Regions from separate parts of the Homo sapiens genome. Here all the other regions are linked to region 3. Evidence: fine-mapped expression QTL. A gene starts in region 3. Each other region holds a variant in brackets. All regions are shown on one strand. Distances are from middle to middle. Region 1 has its middle 2.9 kb from the start of LCE1D. Region 2 overlaps TCHHL1 (trichohyalin like 1). Region 3 holds the start of S100A11 (S100 calcium binding protein A11). Region 4 has its middle 9.0 kb from the start of LINC00302.

Evidence for each region. PIP is the estimated chance that this variant, and not a neighbour inherited with it, causes the effect.
Region 1: its variant is the best candidate, but not a certain one, in a credible set for the expression of S100A11 in B cells (Fairfax 2012, PIP 0.74).
Region 2: its variant is the best candidate, but not a certain one, in a credible set for the expression of S100A11 in whole blood (GTEx, PIP 0.74).
Region 4: its variant is the best candidate, but not a certain one, in a credible set for the expression of S100A11 in monocytes after LPS (Quach 2016, PIP 0.79).

What each region holds. Positions count from the first base shown.
Region 1 is chr1:152,791,219-152,796,371 of GRCh38, reverse strand. No RefSeq gene overlaps it. Among named protein-coding and RNA genes, the nearest start is that of LCE1D, 2.9 kb to the left of the region's middle. The variant A/G (reference allele first, on the strand shown) is at 2,176.
Region 2 is chr1:152,081,068-152,086,220 of GRCh38, reverse strand. It overlaps TCHHL1 (trichohyalin like 1), which reads left to right. Exons shown (of 3, transcript NM_001008536.2): 3 at 1-2,080. The coding sequence ends at 1,254. Among named protein-coding and RNA genes, the nearest start is that of TCHHL1, 5.4 kb to the left of the region's middle. The variant T/G (reference allele first, on the strand shown) is at 2,392.
Region 3 is chr1:152,034,435-152,039,587 of GRCh38, reverse strand. S100A11 (S100 calcium binding protein A11) reads left to right here and starts at 2,584. Exons shown (of 3, transcript NM_005620.2): 1 at 2,584-2,675. The coding sequence starts at 2,673. RefSeq lists enhancers at 964-1,123, 4,221-4,515 and a silencer at 3,081-3,375.
Region 4 is chr1:152,643,874-152,649,026 of GRCh38, reverse strand. It overlaps the pseudogene LCEP4. Among named protein-coding and RNA genes, the nearest start is that of LINC00302, 9.0 kb to the left of the region's middle. The variant C/T (reference allele first, on the strand shown) is at 2,112.

The sequences.
Region 1 (5,153 bases), 760 kb before region 3:
TGAAGTACTAATCCCTGAGGTTTCCATGCATGTTTATTTCTGTCCCTGTGCACCACCAAACTGTGTGGCTGTGGGTGCAGTGTAGACATCTACACAAGTAAAACCCTGGAAGTATAACCCGGCCCAGGACCAGGCCCTGCGAGATGGGACTGTTGAAACTATTTAGCCTGTACCATTTTTTAAACCATAAAGCTGGAAGATGAAAAAGAATTAGTTACAGAAGAATTAGTTGGTTGTGAAAGTCAATAAAGTAACACAAAAAAGAGAAAATGTGCCTGACAGAGAGACTGAAACATTGTAGGCTCTGAATAAGTGAAACATTCATAACTTGCTGAATACAGAATGAAGATACTGATCTTTGTTTAACAAACGAAGCACAGCTTTTTTCTAATGAGAGTGAGTCTGGCTGTTTGGTGATCTGTTTGCTTTTAAATAGCCCTTTTCTTCTGGTGGGGTCCTTGATGTGTCAGCACTGAGATGTGAACAAGGAAGCAGCTCATTAGAGAAACAAGAAGCAGCAGCTCTGCTCTTTGTATTGGTGTGAGAATTTGGACTTTTCTGGGTTCACACTGGGAGCACCGGATGATGGTCACAGATGAGAAACAGGAAGAAAAGAGACATGGTTGTGAGACATTATAAGTCTACGCTTCCATGTGGGGTCAAATGGCTGGCAGAACCCCGTCCTGGACCATAAGGGGACGGGTGCCTTTTAAGAACAAGAGTCCTTAATATTTAATGTGAATGTGTTTATGCTGCTACTTTGGAAGCCCCTCTCCTCTCTCTCCACTAGAATCACTAGCTTTCTACATGTCCACAGGATTTATATGAATGGAGTGTTCTGAATTTATACATTTTTAGGATATTAATGAAATGGGCTGCTGTTCATTCTAGGACACACTAGTCACTAAGACAGCCATGACTGCAAGGTTATCCACAAATTAAACTATTTCTTCAGAGGAAGACCAAGAAAAGCCAGATTAAACCATATGAGGGACAAGTCCTCTTCTTCCCAGCCCCTGACAGACTCTGGATATGCCCAGAACTTGGGAATGATATCTAGGTCAAAATGGACATGGTGACCCTAACCAAAACGTGGTGGAGATACATGTATATTTATAAACACATATACAGAGCATACATATTGAGAGAGATGTATATGTGTGTGTACCACCTGTCTCAGAGCATCAATTATTACAGCTGCCCAGACTCCTGTGATAACGTAGTATCTCCAAACACTGTAGTGTGTCTTTGATTCTGTTCTTTTATGACATCCAAGAAAACATCTTCCATCCCTGTACATAATTAACACTAAATCATTAGTAAAGTCTTGTTCATGATTGCACACTGTATAAGGGTAAATGTCCAAATTCCTTCAGTGAAATAAGACTCTGTGTTCTCCCTTTAGTTTAAGCCTTTGTCATCTACTCTCAGAAATGTTCTGAAACTGAACTGGATTATATTCTGTACTTTGATTATGCTTCTCCCTGCAGTGCATGCCGTGGCCTCTACCCTTCCAGGACAGTGTGGCTCAATCCCACTTTTTTATTTATCCTTCATGTGGCATATCACTCTAATGAGATAACAGTAAATGCTTTGATGGCCTGCCTTGGGTGTTTCATACTTCTTACCTCCGTTTTTCAACACAGAGCTATGTGCACAATGGATATTTAATGACTTTTAAATGCTCTCATTGGTATTAGCATTGATTTACAGTTTATAAACAGCTATTCCTTATGACTCAGGCCACCCTCATAGGAGACACACTCTGAGACAGGCTCAGTGAGGTGTGTGGGCCACATCACCCTGAGAGGTCTGACACCATCCCTCCTGGGTATGACATTTGTTCTCCTGCTCAGATTGTTCCAAAGGGCTTAGTAATGGGGGAGTGGTCAGGACATTGGTTCCCAGGTCGTCACAATGGCAGGTCTACTCAGAAGTTCAACTCCTGGTATCTAGGATGATAGGGCTGGGATACCATCTGGTCCATGCCTCTGTCTTCATGCAGGGCAACACCCAAGCTCTCAACTGACATAACTCAGATGTAGGTGTTGAGTCAGCAACATAGTTGTATTAGGAAGATTGGAACTTGAATCTTGGCTATGAGATATCATGGCTTAGCTATTAGGTCAAATAAGATATCTTGTCCAGCAAAGCACTGACTTTCTGAAATTTCCT[A/G]TTTGTCAAGGTTTTTCTCTTTTAGGTAGTCAAAAATTCACCGTCTCATGGGATGTGAGTGAATACTATTGCGATCTAACCAGAAATAATTCAAATGGAATAATTTTTTGTATGTGTTCTATAACCAGTAACAAGTTAAGTTAGTAATCTTTGTTTTGTTCTTTCCATATCTACAACCCTTTAAACAATTACAGTGATGAGAAAATACTATTAAAGTCTAGAAGAAAATTCTATTCTATTTAAATAGTATATTTTAAAAATATTTTTATTGCTGTTGTTGTTATGATTGTTAATATATTGATATACTGCAACTGTGTTGAACTCTCCTAAATTTTTGCAGTGAATACTTTCCTAAAAAAATTGGTAAAATACATAATCCAAAATTTACTGTCTTAATCATTTTTTTAGTGCACAGTTTAGTAATGTTAAATAGCATCACATCGTTGTGTAGCCAATCTCTAGAATTTTTGTCTTCTTGCAACACTGAAACTCTACGCTCATTAAACAACAGTTCTCTCTTACTCCCTCTCCCCAGCCCCTGGCAATCACCATTTTACTTTCTTTTTCTATGAAATGGACTACACCCCATATCTCACATAAGTGGAATCATACAGTGTTTGTCTTTTTGTGACTGGCTTATTTGATTTAGCATATCTTTAGGATTCATTCATATTGTAGCATGTGCATAAATTTCTTACCTTTTTAAGGCCATATAATATCACATTGTATGTGTATGCCTCCTTTTGCTTCTATAATCATCCAGCAGTGAATGCTTGGATTGCTTCCACCTTTTAGCTATTGTGAATAATAAAGCTATGAACGTGGGTGTACAAGTACCCTGTCAAGACTCTACTTTCAATCTTTTTGTATTGTATATACCCACAAGTGGAATTGCTGGACCCTATGTTAATTCTATTAACTTTTTGAGGAATCACCATGCTCTTTTTCATAGTAATTATACCATTTTATATGCTCACCAACAGTGCACAAGGGTTCTAATTCCTCCACATCCTCACCAACACTTGTTATTTTCTGTTTTGTTTTGCTTTATTTTTTATAGTAGTCATTCTCTCGGGTTTGAAGTGATATCTTACTGTGGGTTTTACTTTAAATAATTTAATCTAATTATGAATGGTGTTGAGCATACTTTCATGTGTCTTTTGGCTATTTGTAAATTTCTTTTGGATAAGTGTCTATTCAAGTTTTTTTTTCCATTTTTAATAAGGTTGTTTGTTTACTTGTTGTTTAATTGTGGGGGTTCTTTACATATTTTGTATAGCAACCCACTACCAGATACACGATTTGCTAATATTTGCTCCCATAACAAAGATTTCCTTTTCATGGTATTGACTTTGTTCACTGATTCACATACATTTCTAATGTTTATGTAGTCTAATTTATCTATTTTTACATTTGTTGCCTGTGCTTTTGGTATCATAGTTAAGAAATCATTGTCAAATCCAATGTCATGAAGATTTCCTCCTATGTTTCCTTTTAGAAATTTTGTAGTTTATTTATTTATTTATTTATTTTGAGATGGAGTCTTGCTCTGTCGTGCAGGCTGGAGTGCAGTTGCATGATCTTGGCTCACTGCAACCTCCACCTCCCGGGTTCAAGCGATTCTCCTGCCTCAGCCTCCCAAGTAGCTGGGACTACAGGTATGCACCACCATACACAGCTAATTTTTGTATTTTTAGTAGAGATGGGGTTTCACCATGTTGGCCAGCCTGGTCTCTATCTCTTGACCTTGTGATCTGCCTGCCTTGGCTTCCCAAAGTGCTGGGATTACAGGGGTTAGCCACCACGCCCAGCCTGTAGTTTTAACTCTATGTTTATGTCTTTGATCCTTAATGAGTTAATTTTTGTGTATGGTGTAACCTGAGGGTCCAGCTTCATGCTTTTGCATGTGCATATCTAAATTTCCCAACACCACCTGTTGAAAAGATTGTCCTTTCTCCATTGAGTGGTATTGGCACCCTTATCAAGAATCATTTTAATCAGCTAGGCATGATAGTTTGTGCCTATAGCTCCAGCTACTCGGGAGGCTGAGACAGGAGGATTGCTTGAGTCCAGGAGTTTGAGTCCTGCCTGGGCAACATAGCAAGATCCTGTTTTTGGACAAAAAAAGAATAATTTGACCATATATATGAAGGTTTATTTATTTTAAGTTTCTCTGCTACTCTTCTATTCTATTTCATTGACCTATATGTCTATCTTTATGCCAATAACACATTATTTTCATTATGGTTGCTTTGTTGTAATAAATTGTGTTAATTTACTTTTATTTTTTTTTAGAGACAAGGTCTCACTATGTTGCTCAGGCTTGTCTAGAACTCCTGGGATCAAGGGATCCTCTATCCTCTGCCTCCTGAGTGGCCGAGACTACAGGTATGCACCACTATGTCTGTCTGTGATAAGTTTTAAAGTCAGGAAGTATGTGACTCTAACTATATTTTTCTTCTTCAGCATTGGTTTGGCTATTTGAGGAATAATTCACAATTAGTCAAGGTGTATAATCCTTTTGATATGCTGTTGAGGATTTTTATCATCCCTCAATATCATCAGAGATATTGTTATGTAGTTTTCTGGCTTTGGCATCAGGATAATGCTGGCCTCAGAGAACGAATTCATAAATGTCCTCATTTCTTCAATTTTTTGGAAGCATTGAGTAAGATTTGTGTTGATTTCTCTTCAAATGTTTGGTAGAATTAATGAGTGAAGCTGTCTGGTCCTGCACTTTATTCTGTTGGCAGAGTTTTGATCTTTGCTAGTTATAGGTCTTTTCAGATTTGTTTCTAGGGATCTATCCATTTCATCTAGGTTATCCAATTTAGCATACAATTGTTCATGGTATTCTCCTATAATTTTTTATTTCTATAAGTTAGTTGTAATGCCTTCCCTCTCATTTTTATTTTAGTTCTTTGATTCTTCTCTTTTTTCTTCTTCAAGCTAGTGAAAAGTTTATCAGTTTTTGTGGT
Region 2 (5,153 bases), 47 kb before region 3:
GCAGCAGAAAGGACACTGGGGGCAAGAGAAAGAACACAAGATTTAGCACCACTTGAGAAGCAGTCTGTAGGAGAAAATACTAGGGTCACCAAGACTCATGACCAACCAGTTGAGGAGGAGGATGGTTACCAGGGGGAGGACCCTGAGTCACCATTCACACAGAGTGATGAGGGGTCTTCTGAAACTCCCAACAGCCTGGCTTCAGAGGAAGGCAATAGCAGCTCAGAGACAGGTGAACTGCCTGTGCAAGGGGACTCCCAGAGTCAAGGGGACCAACATGGAGAGTCTGTGCAAGGAGGTCACAATAATAACCCAGATACCCAGAGGCAGGGAACACCTGGTGAGAAAAACAGAGCTCTGGAGGCAGTGGTACCAGCAGTCAGAGGAGAGGATGTACAGCTCACAGAGGACCAGGAACAGCCTGCCAGAGGAGAACACAAGAATCAAGGCCCAGGGACCAAAGGCCCAGGTGCAGCTGTGGAGCCCAATGGACACCCAGAAGCACAGGAATCCACAGCAGGAGATGAAAATAGAAAGTCCCTGGAAATAGAGATCACAGGTGCCCTGGATGAAGACTTCACTGACCAGCTTTCCCTAATGCAGCTCCCTGGAAAGGGAGATAGCAGAAATGAATTAAAGGTCCAAGGCCCAAGTAGCAAAGAAGAGAAAGGAAGAGCAACAGAGGCCCAGAATACTCTGTTAGAAAGTCTAGATGAGGACAATTCAGCCTCCCTCAAGATACAACTTGAAACAAAGGAACCTGTAACATCAGAGGAGGAAGATGAAAGTCCCCAAGAGCTGGCAGGAGAAGGTGGTGACCAAAAAAGTCCAGCCAAGAAAGAGCACAATTCTTCAGTCCCCTGGTCAAGTCTTGAAAAGCAGATGCAGAGAGACCAAGAGCCCTGTTCTGTGGAGAGGGGTGCAGTCTATTCCAGTCCACTATACCAGTACCTACAGGAGAAGATACTGCAGCAAACAAATGTAACCCAAGAGGAGCATCAAAAGCAAGTTCAGATAGCCCAGGCATCAGGCCCAGAGCTTTGCAGTGTATCCCTCACCAGTGAGATCTCAGATTGTTCTGTCTTTTTCAACTACAGCCAAGCATCACAACCATATACCAGGGGACTTCCACTTGATGAGAGTCCTGCTGGTGCACAGGAAACACCAGCTCCCCAGGCCTTGGAAGATAAGCAAGGTCACCCTCAGAGAGAGAGGCTGGTACTACAAAGGGAGGCAAGCACCACAAAGCAATGAATCATTATCATCTCAACATGCCCCCAATTTCTCTCCCAATCACCCTCAATACTCACGTGTACACATTCAGATGCAGATTAACAATCTTTTAAATTCTCTTCCTAAATTTCTACAAAAACAAATAATAAAATATTCAGCAGTGGGGGACACCACTAAAGAAACATCTGAGCAAACAAATACAGTCAGTAAAACTCCTACCAAACAATGCTACTTCCAAATGCCAAAATGGGCTTTGTCATGAGACAGTTTATCTCAATGTACCTGTCATTAAAAATGGAAAAATTCCTTCCATATCTTTAGCAGGTGCCAGTTTTTCCAACTGATTCATTGAATTTAAAATAGAGCAGTAGGAAATTATAAGACTCTGCAATAATATCTCATAATCATAAAATATTAATTCATATATATAGATTACTCTGCTTCATGACATTTCCTAGAAGTATTTCAAGTTCATCCTAAAATTTTATCCTTCAAAATAATTTTAGACAATGCCATAACTTAATTATGATTTTCTAGCACTTGATTAAAGTAAATTTATGACTCTGCTCATGTTCAGGTGCAGCTGAATCTATCGCCATGGATTCATTCTTTCAATTACTCATCCAACAAATTTTTATTAAATCCCACTCCTTACACAAACTTTTCATAGCTTTTGGCTCAAATAAACAATCAAGAATAATTATGAGAGAAAACACAAATCTAAAGTATGTTTGATTTTATAAGAAGCTCTTGTAACCAACCATCCAGTGAGTCTACTAAGTGTTTACCTATATGGTTTGATGAGGGTATTAAATTAAAATTGATAATTAAACAACCTGATGATCAATTTCTTTTGTTGGGTCATTTTTTTCCCCTCATTCTCCGTCTTGCCTTGGAGACACTGATCAAAAACGAAAACAATCTTAGTTATTTGTGTTTTTTCAAAAGACTATAATTAAAGTATGATGCTCTTCAAGCTTAGTCATGACCCAGGAAAGGAATAAAATTGTTATCATACAATGTTTCCTGAAGCCAAAAAGCAGTCCAATACTCCATCTCCCATTGCATTCTGCCTTCGAGGTTCAGTATTCTTCCACTTCAACCTTCACATTTTCCAGAGCCTAAAATCCAAGTATATAACCTCCCCCTCCAATATTT[T/G]CAGCTCTTTTCATTCTACACTCAAATATGAATTATATCCCTATCTGAAAAAAATATTACTTTAAATGAGCAAGAAACATGAGACAATTCATAAAAAAGAAAAATATATATATTTCTTTTAGTTTGTCCATGCTCTAATATACATACACATACACAAACATACATATGTACTACACTAGAGCATAGACTTACTAAAGGAAAAAATTATATACATAATTTTTAGTTTATAAAATTATATACATAATTTTTAGTTTATAAAATTATATACATAATTTTTAGTTTATAAAATTATATACATAACTTTTAGTTTATAAAATTATATACATAACTTTTAGTTTATAAAATTATATACATAATTTTCAGTTTATAAAATTATACACTAATTTTTAGTTTATAAAATATACATAATTTTTAGTTTATAAAATTATATATAATTTTTATTTATATATAATTATAGATAATTTTAGTATAAATAAATATATACATACTAGAGCATAAACTCGTCATCCCTTTTGGCAAGCAATGTGGCAATAAGTATCTGAGTCCATAAAAATGAAAAACTTCATTATTAATAAATTCACAAAAGAAGCTATACAGATGGCCAATAAACATTCGAAATCCTCACTAGAATTGAAGAAAATGTGAATGACAAAACAGCTCCAGTGGCAGTGGTGCTGGCAGTCATAGAAAAGGATGCACAACTCACAGAGGAACAAGAACAGCCAAAAAGCAGAAACGTTTACCTATATGGTTTGCTGACGGCATTAAATAAATGGGCAGTGGCTCATGCCTGTAATCCCAGCACTTTGGGAAGCCAAGGCAGGAGGATCACTTGAGCTCAGGAGTTTGAGACAAGCCTGGACAACATAGTGAGACCTAATCTCTACTAAAATAGAAAAAGAAATCAAAATTTTCTGTACTAAGCATATTTTATTTTCTTAACTGAAAAAATTAAAAACTTAATAGCAACAATTTTTAAACACTCTCTTAGCATTCCAGCAATCAGCACTAATAGAATGGTGGGCAGAAAGAAGAAAAGTTTGCTGAATATATATATATATATATATATATATGTTTTTGCCATCATCCTTCAAGAAGTATTCCTTTGAAGGTGATGTTGCCCTCCATCCAACAAGCCTAAAGACCTCCAGCTTCCACAGTTTTGGACATCGGGCATTGATGACTGTCTTTCATGAAATACTCCCTTCAGTGGTCTTTCCCCATCTCCCTAGTTAATTCCTCTCATCCAGTGCCCAAGACTGTGCCCCCTTTCCAAGGACTCTTCTTTTTATGAACTTTCTCCTCGTGAGAACCCATGCTTGGTCCAACTTACTATTATCTCTTTCACACTGATGAGTCTCAATTCACCTTGTTCAAACCTGACTGTGCACTTCAATCCAGTCTCTACAAATGCTCACAGATATGACGCCTTCTATTGTCAACCACTTCCAGACAAACTGGCTTGTCTTCTCAATTTCCTTCCTACTGTCATTCTCTCAATCTTCATTCTATCATGCTTCAAAGGCACAAACTTTGGAATCATCATTTACCTTGTCTTATTCTTCATATCTAATCCACTTTGTTATCTCAATAGTTTTTCTTTTTTTTTAACTTCTTGCCTTTTAATAATATCTTTGAATATAGATGGTTTCAATTCTCCAATAACAAGATGTAGAGTGGTCAAATGGTTTTTCATACATGTTTTCCTAGTCCAGACACCCAAAAGTATGTCCCTCTCTTGGGCATAAGAAAACCTAGAGTTATATTTAGGGCATCATGTGTGGTGAATAGTTGACCGAGCTGGCATGCTCACAATGACCAAATTATGTTTGTCATATTTTAATCCAATACATTGATCTACTATGAACTTGTAAATAATGTATTTGCTTTCTAGACACATTCCAGGAAGACCAGAGAAACTGACTTTTATCCATATGGAATAATCCACTGGCAAATTTCTTTTAGGACAGACCAAAGCTGATCTAGAACATAATCTTTACATACTTGGATCCTTCCCATCAAACAAGAAAGAACATCTGGGGTGAAAGGCTCCATTAGAAGAGTAATGTGGGATGGTGCTGTGCTGACAACTGGTAGTTCCTGCCCTACATCTTTGTAGAGGACTGGAGCCCAGAGCATGCCATGGTCAACTTGTATGCTGAAGTGAAGAACTCCTTCAAGGTGTGCATGTGCTTATTACAGATATGCCATGGTGCTAAGTACCCCAGGACTACAGGAAAAAATAAGAATAGATGCTGTATCCATGATCATGAGGCACACAGGCCAGAGCGCCAGCTGTGGAATCACACAGCCCAGGTTCAAAGCCTGGCTGGGCCATGACCACCTGAATGACCTGAGGAATGGTCTCAGGCAAATTTGTAAAAAGTGGAGACACTGCCTGCCAGGGAGGCATGTGGTAAGAGGCGCATCCAGTCAGGTCAGGGCACCGCGTCCTCTCTTTGGAAACCTGCGGAGCGGGGCTGGTGGCCCTTGAGGCCACAGCAGCCATGGAGAAGGCGGGCCTGGCTCCAGGCGGCACAGAGGCACTGGAGAGGACCCGGGGGAGCCTAGCGGGATCTGGCTGGTCCTGCGCTCTGCTTCCAGGTTCTGGCCCTGTAACCCGGGAGACAGGGCCGGCCAAGACAGGGCCACTGGGTGCCAGCCAGCACCTGGGCCGGGCGCCAGGCGGAAGGGCTCTGGCAGATCAGCCCCGCACCCCCAACAGCCCCACAGGGGGGCCCATCCAGGGCCACACACCTGCC
Region 3 (5,153 bases):
AAGCTTTTTGGCCCTAGTTCATCTTTCCATGTTATGTCATGAAACATCCACTACCAGCCATCCTATAGATTGGCAGTGCTGGTGTCCAGACTAACTTCAACCCAGTCCACTCTAACAGGGTCACAGTGTGTCAAATCATGCAAAACTTGGCCACCTGGGCTGCCCCTTGAGCACAGGTTCTAAGTGAGGCATTTTCTCTTAAAAAGAACTATAGTGGCCGGGCGCAGTGGCTCTCACCTGTAATCCCAGCACTTTGGGAGGCTGAGGAGGGCAGATCACGAGGTCAGGAGTTCCAGACCAGCATAACCAACATGGTGAAACCCCGTCTCTACTAAAAATACACAAAAAATTAGCAGGGTGTGGTGGCGCACACCTGTAATTCCAGCTACTCAGGAGGCTGAGGCAGGAGAATCGCTTTAACCCGGGAGGCGGAGGTTGCAGTGAGCTGAGATCACCCCGTTGCACTCCAGCCGCCTAGGCAACAAGAGTGAAACAACGTCTCAAAAAAGAAAAAAAAGAAAAGAACTGTGGTGTGTAAGGCCTCATGATTGAGTTATGGAGTAATTTAGACAAATGATTCCTTAATATGTTGGGATCATAAATTTTTCTGAGAATCAGATGAAAGATGTGGACTCTTCGCCAGAAAAATTTCTCTTATGCAAAAAATTTACATGTAACTTTAAGGTATTAAGGAACCCCAGCAGCCGTTCATGTAACACCCCCCACCACCAAAGGTTTGAAGTCTATTACCTGGCACTTGATAAGAACTGTGAGTCAAAAAGGCATTTAGACTCAGTGGCTCCAATGCTTTCAAGCAGGGAAAATGGTAGAGTGATAGTACCCTTAGCAGAGAAGACAGAAACAGGTTTGGGGAAAACTAGTTATTCCTGAATTATTGAGTCTGAAGTGCAGGTGGGACTCTCAAGTGGATTCATAAACAAGTAACTGAAAATGTGGGTCTGGAGTAGCTGAGAACTGAGATGGAGATTTGTCTCACGTGCTCAGGGCACCTGTGAGAGCAGGTGCAGGGAAGCAGTTCACACAATGCCTATAGCCCATTATCTTTCATTTGCGTCTACTCTGCAGTTTTTGGAGACCTTTCTAAGCCCTCACTTTACTTGACAGTCCTAACAATCTTATGAAACAGGAAAGGCCTATCTCAAGACCTATTACAAATAAGGAAGTGGAAGCTCAAAGGAGTGACAAGTCTGGTCAAAAGTATTGCAATGAAGTAACAGACACAAGACTGGAACCCAAGTCTTCTGATTCTTAATACAACTCCTAATTTCATTGCAAACTGCACACAGATAAATGCCTTACTAGCACGGATCAATTTTTAAGTGCAGTAGTTTGGTTTTCGGATTTTGTCTTTGTGGCTGTCCTCAGTTTACAGAAAAGTTTGAGAGAGAGGGGTGGCAATTGTCCCTTGACAATAATCCCCAGTAATCCCGTGGCAATTGATTTGGCAATACTCACCACTGTTTACTGTTAAATATCTTCCCTGTGGAGCAATAGAGAGCCCCAACTCCTAGGAACTTGTCTACAATTCTGACCCGCACTCTGTCCTAACTAACACTCTTGGTTTTGTTTTTTGTTTGTTTGTTTTTGAGATGGAGTCTTGCTCTGTCGCCCAGGCTAGAGTGCAGTGGCGCGATCTCGGCTCACTGCAAGCTCTGCCTCCGGGGTTCACGCCATTCTCCTGCCTCAGCCTCCCGAGTAGCTGGAACTACAGGCGCCCGCCACCACGTCCGGCTAATTTTTTGTATTTTTAGTAGAGACGGGGTTTTGCCGCGTTAGCCAGGATGGTCCCGATCTCCTGACCTCGTGATCCACCCGCCTCGGCCTCCCAAAGTGCTGGGATTACAGGAGTGAGCCGCTGCGCCCGGCCTGTTTTTGTTTGTTTTTTGAGACATTGTTCCGCTCTTGTTGCCCAGGCGGCTGGAGTGCAACGGCGCGATCTCAGCTCGCTGCAAACTCCACCTCCCGGGTTCAATCGATATTTCTGCCTCAGCCTCCCAAGTAGTTGGTATTACAGGCGTGTGCCACCACGCCAGGCTAATTTTGTATTTTTAGTAGAGACAGGGGTTTCACCATGTTAGTCAGGCTGATCTCAAACTCCTGACCTCATGTGATCTACCCGCCTCGGCCTCCCAAAGTGCTGGGATTACAGGCCTGAGCCACCGCGCCCGGCCCACTGCTGTTTCCAAAAGAGACCTTTTTTGCCTATCTAACCTAAATGCCCAGAATGAGCTCATACATGGGAAAGACCCACGGACATGGACAGACTTCCCGAAGACTACTGTGCAAAACTTATAATTCTAAAAAGTCAAAAATCTTCAGGAATCACAGGACGGGGTGGAGGGGGCCGGGGGGAAAGAGGAGGGAAAAGAGGGAAAGGAGGGAGAGTGAGACTGCTTAAATCGCTGGAGAGGACGGTGGGTTTATTTGAGTCTTAAAGCTCAGTTCTGTGGTTAGCGCCGGCCGCGGTCCCAGGCCCAGCCCGGGAGGCGGGGAGGGGCGGGGCAGGCGCGGAAGCTGTCTGAGTAAGGCTTGGGCAAGGCTGGGCCGGGAAGGGCGTGGGTTGAGGAGAGGCTCCAGACCCGCACGCCGCGCGCACAGAGCTCTCAGCGCCGCTCCCAGCCACAGCCTCCCGCGCCTCGCTCAGCTCCAACATGGTAAGCCTCACTTTTCTTCTTCTTCTTCTTACATGAAAAGAAAAAGAAAAGAAAAAAAACCCACATACTTCCCAGCAGACTTTATCTTTGACTTATGTGTGGACGTGGCAGGAAACAGCAGGAAAAATCAGCCTCGTGGGAGGGAACTGGGGAAGAAGGGATGGAAGGATGAAGCCCTAAAATCATCCTTGGGGTGGCCGCCTAGGGTAGCAGCGGAGGTTCTTTAGCCTTCCCAGTCACGACAAGGCCCAGGGCTGGGGAAGAGGAAGTGCTGGCCGCTCACCGCGCGGGGGGGGGACCCGTCGTGGGTCACTGCCTCCAGCCCCTCGCCCGCGGTCTCCCGGGAGCCCAGAGACGCCTAGGAGCAAGTTTAAGGCAGGGGGCTGGAAAGCTGCGAGGGGTCACTAGTTATTTCTGTACACCAGAAAAGGGACATTTTAGAACTTGGTCGTCTAGCCCCAGGGAAAATCAAAGTTTCAGTAAGCACCCGGCAGACGGCCAAGACCCAACGGGACTGAAACTTTAGCCCGTCGCCGCCCGCAGCGCCGCGGCCAAGAATGTGGGAGGAACCCGGTCCCAGCTGAGCCCTCTCCTCCTTCCTCTTCCTTTTACCCCACCATCTATTTAGGCACTCACTCCGTAACTTATTTTTCTCTTCTTATCTCCTTTCATCTCCCAGTTGAACTCATATTTTCCATAATTCCACCTCCAAAATCTCTTTCTTTACCTCTCCTTAGTGGAGAGTCAGCAAACTGGCCCGCGGGCCAAGTCGGGTTTTCTGTTCTGCCCACAAGCTAAGAATAAAGTTTACATTTGTAAATGATTGAAAGAAATCAAAAGAAGAAAAATACTTTCTGACATGTGAAAATTATGTGGAAATCAAACTTCAGCGTCCATAAATGAAGTATTGGAACAGAGCCACGCCCATTCCCTTCCATACTGTCTGGGGTTGCAGTCCTGCTACAGCAGGGACAGAAAGCTCCGGAGGGTGTTGGTTAAGAATGAGAAGACAATAGTTGAGGTTTTTAAAATTGCTACGTCTTTTTCATCGTATTTTTTTCTTTCCTCAAATGTTGAGCGCTTAGCATGCATTTTTAAAAATTATTTCACAGTATCCGTTTATCATAATGTTTGCTCCTTGCTATCGCCATCCCCACCAAGTAAGACTCCAAGAGTGCCATGAGGTGTGGAGAGCGCCGGTTCTCCTCTCCTTCAGCCACTGCGCCACCCTGGGCAGAGCTTTCCGGTTTCTGGGCGTCCTCAGGACCCATCTCCAAAGTGCCCTGGAGCTCTACAAATTATGCCGTTCCATTTTAGTAATTTGATAATTGTGTCTCTTTCTTTCACTTTGGAGAATTACCTCTGGGAGGAAATGCAAAGAGGTTTTAATTTTCTCCTTGTGGCTGATAGCAACAGCAACAGTTTTCAAAAGAAAATAATCTCTAAATTACACCAAGACTGATGTTAAGGAGAGAAAAATGTGAAGCAGAAAGGCACTGTGAAACTGGAAAAGCAAAACTGTCTGCATTCTGGAAGGAAAAGGGGCAGGGGGAGAATCTGTAGTTCCAGAGAAAGGTGACAAAGCCCATGCTCCTCAGCCTGGTGTGGCCTCCCAGCCAGTCTCCTTCCTGTCATCTGATACCTTAGTAAGACAGGGAGATTTTAGGCCTGATATGAAGGGCATGTTGTAACAGAACAAACACATCTGTTTCTAGGCTGTGGTATTTTGTTTCTCCCCTAAAGGCCCCTGAACCTACCAACACTTTTCTTAATGAAAAGTTCAATTTAGAGCAAAACAAAAACAATCATCCTCCAACAATGTGATTCTTGGGAAAAAGTCCACCTCTCTTAGGGTTCAGGGGTTCTAACGCTGTAAGATGCAATGGGAGGCAAGACTCAGCTAGGATCTCTGCAGCATAAAGGCTGTACAGGAAGGAGGAATCAATCTGCAGCTGTGTAGCTAAGGGCTCAGATCAGTTCTTAGCACGTGTTAATTACGGAGTGAGAAAGCCTCTAGCTCTGGCCTCCAGGAAGTCCATCCTAAGAACAAACGAAAGGCTAAATGCTAAGTTGCAAATGTCACCATCCAAACATAAATCATTGTTAACGCTAGTAGGTAAAGTCTCAGAGGAAGGGTGTGGCCAGGCCGGTTTCCCAGAAAGTCTGTAATTGCGGCTTCTACCCACCAGAGGGAGGCCAACAGCTCCTCACTTTTGGGACCCTAAGTCCCCTTGGGGAACCGGATGACTGGGCCCTATAGAATTTCCTTGAAAAATTCTGCTGTGAGGAAAGAGCCCAGTACAGGATTTAAATCTCTTACATTGTAGATGCTGTGTAAGCAGCAACCTGAGAGCTTCCTGGTTTGGAGTGACCTCCAGAGAAGCTCCACCTTCTCTGTCACTATTTCCCACCAGGAAGTGGAAGCCTGCAAGGCTAAGGACTGCAGAAAGGGACTGGGAGGCCCAGATTCCAGGGCTG
Region 4 (5,153 bases), 610 kb before region 3:
GATGAGGATGTGAAACTCAAACTAATTTAATTCCCAACCATTTTCCTGAGTTCTTCACAGGAGCAGGGTTTCTCTATGTTTCCCTGGCTTTACTCAAGAGGGGACTTAATCCTCCATGGTAGCTCCCTGACCACCATACCCTGGGATCTGAAAATAGTTGAAAGGAAAACTTGGCAAGAACTCTCATCCTTAAGGATGAGAAATATTTTTAAATAGAGGAGTCCCAATTCCAGAATAGGCAAACAAACAAACAGCAACAACAACAAATACCCAGAAAACCCACCCTGGCAAGACTAATCTAGGTTAAAAAAAGAGAAGTTATCATCAAATATTATAAATTAAAAAGTTATGTATCTTCATAACAATAATAAAGCAGAGAACAAAATATAAAAATGAAAGACTGTCAATAACTATACACTGCCAACGTTGAAAGCTTAGACAAAATGGAAAACATACATTAAAAAGTATAATCTAGTAAAATAAGCTCAAGAAGAGACAAAAAGTATGAATTCTCTTATAACTAGTTGAGAAACTAAAGTACTATTAAGAAACATAGAAAACAATGGCCAAAATTGTTTTCTAGGCGAACAGTACAAAACTATAAAGGAGTAGATCGTTTCAAATTTATTTAAGGATATTGGGCATAAAAATTCAATCATTTTGAAAAACAGATTAGCTCTCCATTATAAATTTAAATTCTTAGCTACTAAATACACCAAGATTCAGCAATTCTGCTCCTAGAAGACATGTACAAGAATGCTTAGAGTAAACATCTGAAAACCACAAAACTGCCAAATCCAGAGATGTCCTTTGGTTTTGCACAGACACACTTACCAGGATGAGTCTCAGAATTAGCTCAGGCTGCAGAGGTGTCCAAAAGGAGGAAGAAGAAGAACCAGGGACACCTTTCATAGGAGGAGTCCCCAGGCTGGGCTCAGAAATGAGCCTTGTCTCTGGAAAGAGCAGGAGAAAATCTCTCACAACCAAGGAACACTTAGGGCCATTCCTGACATTCTCCTTCCAAAAGAGCTGTAGGAGCACTCCAGCCTCTCAATGGGGCCCAAGACCTGTGGGCCTTCAACGAGCCACACCCTTTCCCAAATATAAGCCTCAGATAGCCTGAGATCCCAAGAACCTGGTCACTGGGCTGAGGCTCTAAGGCCTGGGTCGCTGCGTGCCAGTCCCTTCTCATGAAATAGGTGGTCACATCTTTCTTGCCAAGCTTTGTGAGGTGGGGCTTAGATGAGACAAATAGGAAAGAGAGGATAGAAAACTTTAAGAGAGTTTTTTCAAAAGAATCTACAAGACTGGATGTCCCTTTGTGTATATGTGATGGGGAAAAGGGATAGATCAAAGATTATACCAAATGTCTTGACCAGATATCAAATGTCTTGACCAGAGAAATAATCATATGGTGGAAAGAGAACAAATATTGGGAGGGGTGTAGATTTGAGGTCCTAGCAAGACCTTCTGATGAATGAAGAGGTTCTGGAGACATTTAGAGATACCACCTTGGAGGTTATTGATTCCCAGTCTAAAGGGACTTGGAGATAAACTTCTGAAATCATCACCCTGGCATTCATCATTATTTACTCATCCATCTAACATAATTATTTATTTATTTGAACAACCACTTTACGGGGACCCAAGAGGATGAAAACAGGGTTTCTTTACTCAGCAGCTCTCACATTCTGATAGGATCAGAATTATAGAAATAAACACACATATCTTATAATGTTTTAAAATACTAGTAAGAAATCTTATGGAGTAGGGACAACTTTGTGAAATAGTATGCTGTTTCATATGCATTTCAGTACATGGAACAGTGAGAAGGCACACTAAATACTTGGACACCGGTGAGTGTAATGAAGTGCTTCTCTATCCCCTGCCACCAAAAACCAGGGGAATTGGCTTTTTTGTGCTTTTGTACCCACCGCCAATTAAGTATATAAGTGTGTGTGTGTGTGTGTGTGTGTGTGTGTACATGCATGGATGATGGATGCACACACACACACACCACATGTAAATGCCCATACACTTCAGTCCTGCCTCTCACTCCATCATGGTTGCTACAAACATCTCTTCACAGAGAATGAGGAAACTCAGGCTGA[C/T]AACACCAAAGAAAAATTTGGACTAATGAAAGTATCTCACATATCTCATTGCAAAGTAGTGATTCAGGAGATGAAATTCAGAGCCACCTGCTTTGGACCTCATGGGCTTTTCTCATGCAAAGAAGTGCTTCAGAGATTCTAGTGGACTGTGAGCTTCTCAAGGTTAGAGGTTGTGTCTGATTCACATCCAAATCCCAAATTCCAGACTGATGTCCACAGACCTCATCTGGTGTGCTAAATGAATGTCCATTTAACCAAACACTTTGTTCATTTTTTAAATCTATTTTACATTTGGCCTGAAAGCTTGTGGAGGGTAGGGACCTTGTCTGAAAATAGGTAATAAATAAATAGAGAATGGAGCACCTCTAAAAGAGACTTTTAGAGGTCATATGTTTCTCCTTATTTGGGAACCTCAGTGAGGGAGTGGCCACTGCCATTTAGTTCACAGCTTTATTCTGCTCCTCAAACAATGAATGGTACAATGACTGCCTTCAATAAATGAAAAAATCTGTCTAACCCAACTCTTCCCTGATTTTTCAATGTCAAGTGTACTCAATCCCTCAGTCAATGTCATCTCCCATTCCTCATTCCCAGGGATAACTGGACTCCAGATTTAGAAGCTCCCCAGGATGGCAAGCCCTTCTCAGGCCACTTGTTAGAGTTTAGGGATAAGCTCCTTAAAAGTAGCAACCGTAAGTGACCATCTTTCAACCCCCCATAAGGCCTAGATGCTGTCAATTTGTTTTAGCATGCATTATTGAGCATCTTCTACGTACAAAACACATGCTACATATTTTCATTTCTTAATGTTCAAATCAATGAGTATTAGGGTACTCATTGATCATTTTAAAAAGAACACAGATGCCTAGGAAACATGAGTGATATTTCAAAGGTCACGAGTTACAGCTAGAATTGACACCAGGTTTCCTGACTATAGTTACAGAGACATGACCTCTATAGCCTGCCTTCCTCTTGCCAAATTAAGAAAGAGTTAATTGTTTTGACTAAATCAGCTCAGTCATCACTATCCTCACAAGTAAAATAAATCAGAATAGCACAGCTGCTCCTCAGAGGACAGCTGAGGGAGAAGCAGAGACCCAGAGTCCACCCTGAAGGACAGGTCCCAGGAAGGATGGCTGGGTGGGGAGGGTTCTTCCTAATTCAAAACTCCAGAACAACCAGCCTAGGAATGGCTGGTACCTAAAGCAGGACCTCAAAGACAAACCCCAAGCGTGGGGGAAATCAGAACGGAATGTTTCCACAATGAAAAATAAAAATAAAAAATAAAATATGGCTTTGACCTGAGTTTTCCCAAAGAACAAATAGCATCTTTATCCAGACATTGGCTCCCTGTGCATCCCAAGTTAACCCTTCAGAGCTCCAGCCTAGAAGAGGGTGCAACTGGATAAAGCGTGTCTAGACCCTAGCCCCAGAGAGGGGTCCTGGGAGCTCCCAAGGCCTCCTTGAATTGCAGGGACAAGGAGAGAGGGGAATGTCACAGATCACCGAGCACATGCCTGGTTGGACAAGAGCCACTTCCTGCTCTTACTGGAGCCAAGCCTGGGTCTATAAAAGACACATACCCAGCTCCAGCACCTCATCTGCTCTGACGCCCTAGGGACATGTCTGTGCTCTTTTGTGTGACCAGGATGAATGAGAACCTGGGAGACCAGAGGGGTTGGAGAAGGACAGAGAGATTGGAGGAAGTAAAGAGTCTTAGGAAAAAGAGTTATGTATTTGATTTCTGCCATACTGAACAGGAATAAAATTCAGAGGGAGAGGAAACTATTGCCTTGTGGCTTAAGATGTCAGTGGCACTTTGCCACTCTGGAAACTGCCCTGGGCCAAAAGGCAAGTGTGCCAACCTCATCTATTTTAGGGGCTTGTTTTTATAATAATATGGTGGCACTTCAGAGAGTTTTGAATGCTGCATGCAGGACTATGAAGACTGAGAAATCCTTGTGTCCTATTATAAAGGAGAATAAGATGTTGTTTACTACATCTGCATTTAAAATCTATGTACTTTTAATTAGAGGAAAGATTTATATGTTTCCTCTGGATGCTTATTTATGTTTTCTAAATATCATTTACTATCGCCCTTCATACTCATTCTAGAGCAGGTAAAAAACATGCCCCTTGATTTAACTAATCCATACCATGTCATTATTCTCTTCCAGGTTGATTGAACACCTGCCCAGATGTCCTGCCAGCAGAACCAGCAGCAGTGTCAGCCCCCTGCAAGTGCCCTTCCAAGTGTACTCTGAAATGCCCCCCAAACTGTCCATCCCAGTGCACAGCACTATGCCCAGTCTCTTCCTGCTGCAGCTCTAGCTCTGGGGGCTGCCGTGGCTCCAGCTCTGGGGGCTGCTGCAGCTCAGGAGGTGGTGGCTGCTGCCTGAGCACTACAGGTGCCACAGGTCCCACTGCCACAGACCCCAGAGCTCCAGCTGCTGTGAATGTGAGCCTTCACAGGGCTCCAGCTGCTGCCACAGCTCTGGGAGCTGCTGCTGCCTTGGGTCCTGAGGACCTCTGAAGTACACATGGGACAAAGCATCAAACAATTTGCTTCTCATTCTTCCATTCCCTCATTTTGACATCCTGGGGATGGTAGATCACAAAGCTAATGTAGGCATTTCCACACGTAGAACATTCTGTTTATCTTCCATTTTCTTTGCAAAAATAAAGTTCCTGTTTCCTACTTAAAGTGTGCCCCGGTCACTCTCTCAGCCCTGCATAGTCCACAATCATCAGTGAGCCCTTCTTCAGAGAGCCTGAGGCCAAGGCAGAGCTTGACTAAGGGGTGGGTAACTAGGCAGCTTCCCAGGGTTTGTGTGTGTGTGTGTGTCTGTGTGTGTGTGTGTGTGTGTGTCTGTGTGTGTGTGTGTGTGTGTGTGTGTGTGAAATATGAGATATAAGAAAACATCACCAGAAGTGTAGTGACACTGAGGAATATGTACTCAGCCGAGCTTGTTTGGAGGAGTGAGCTTATGTAACAGAAGAAATGGAAAGCAGATAGAAGTGAAAATATGCTATTTGATCGCA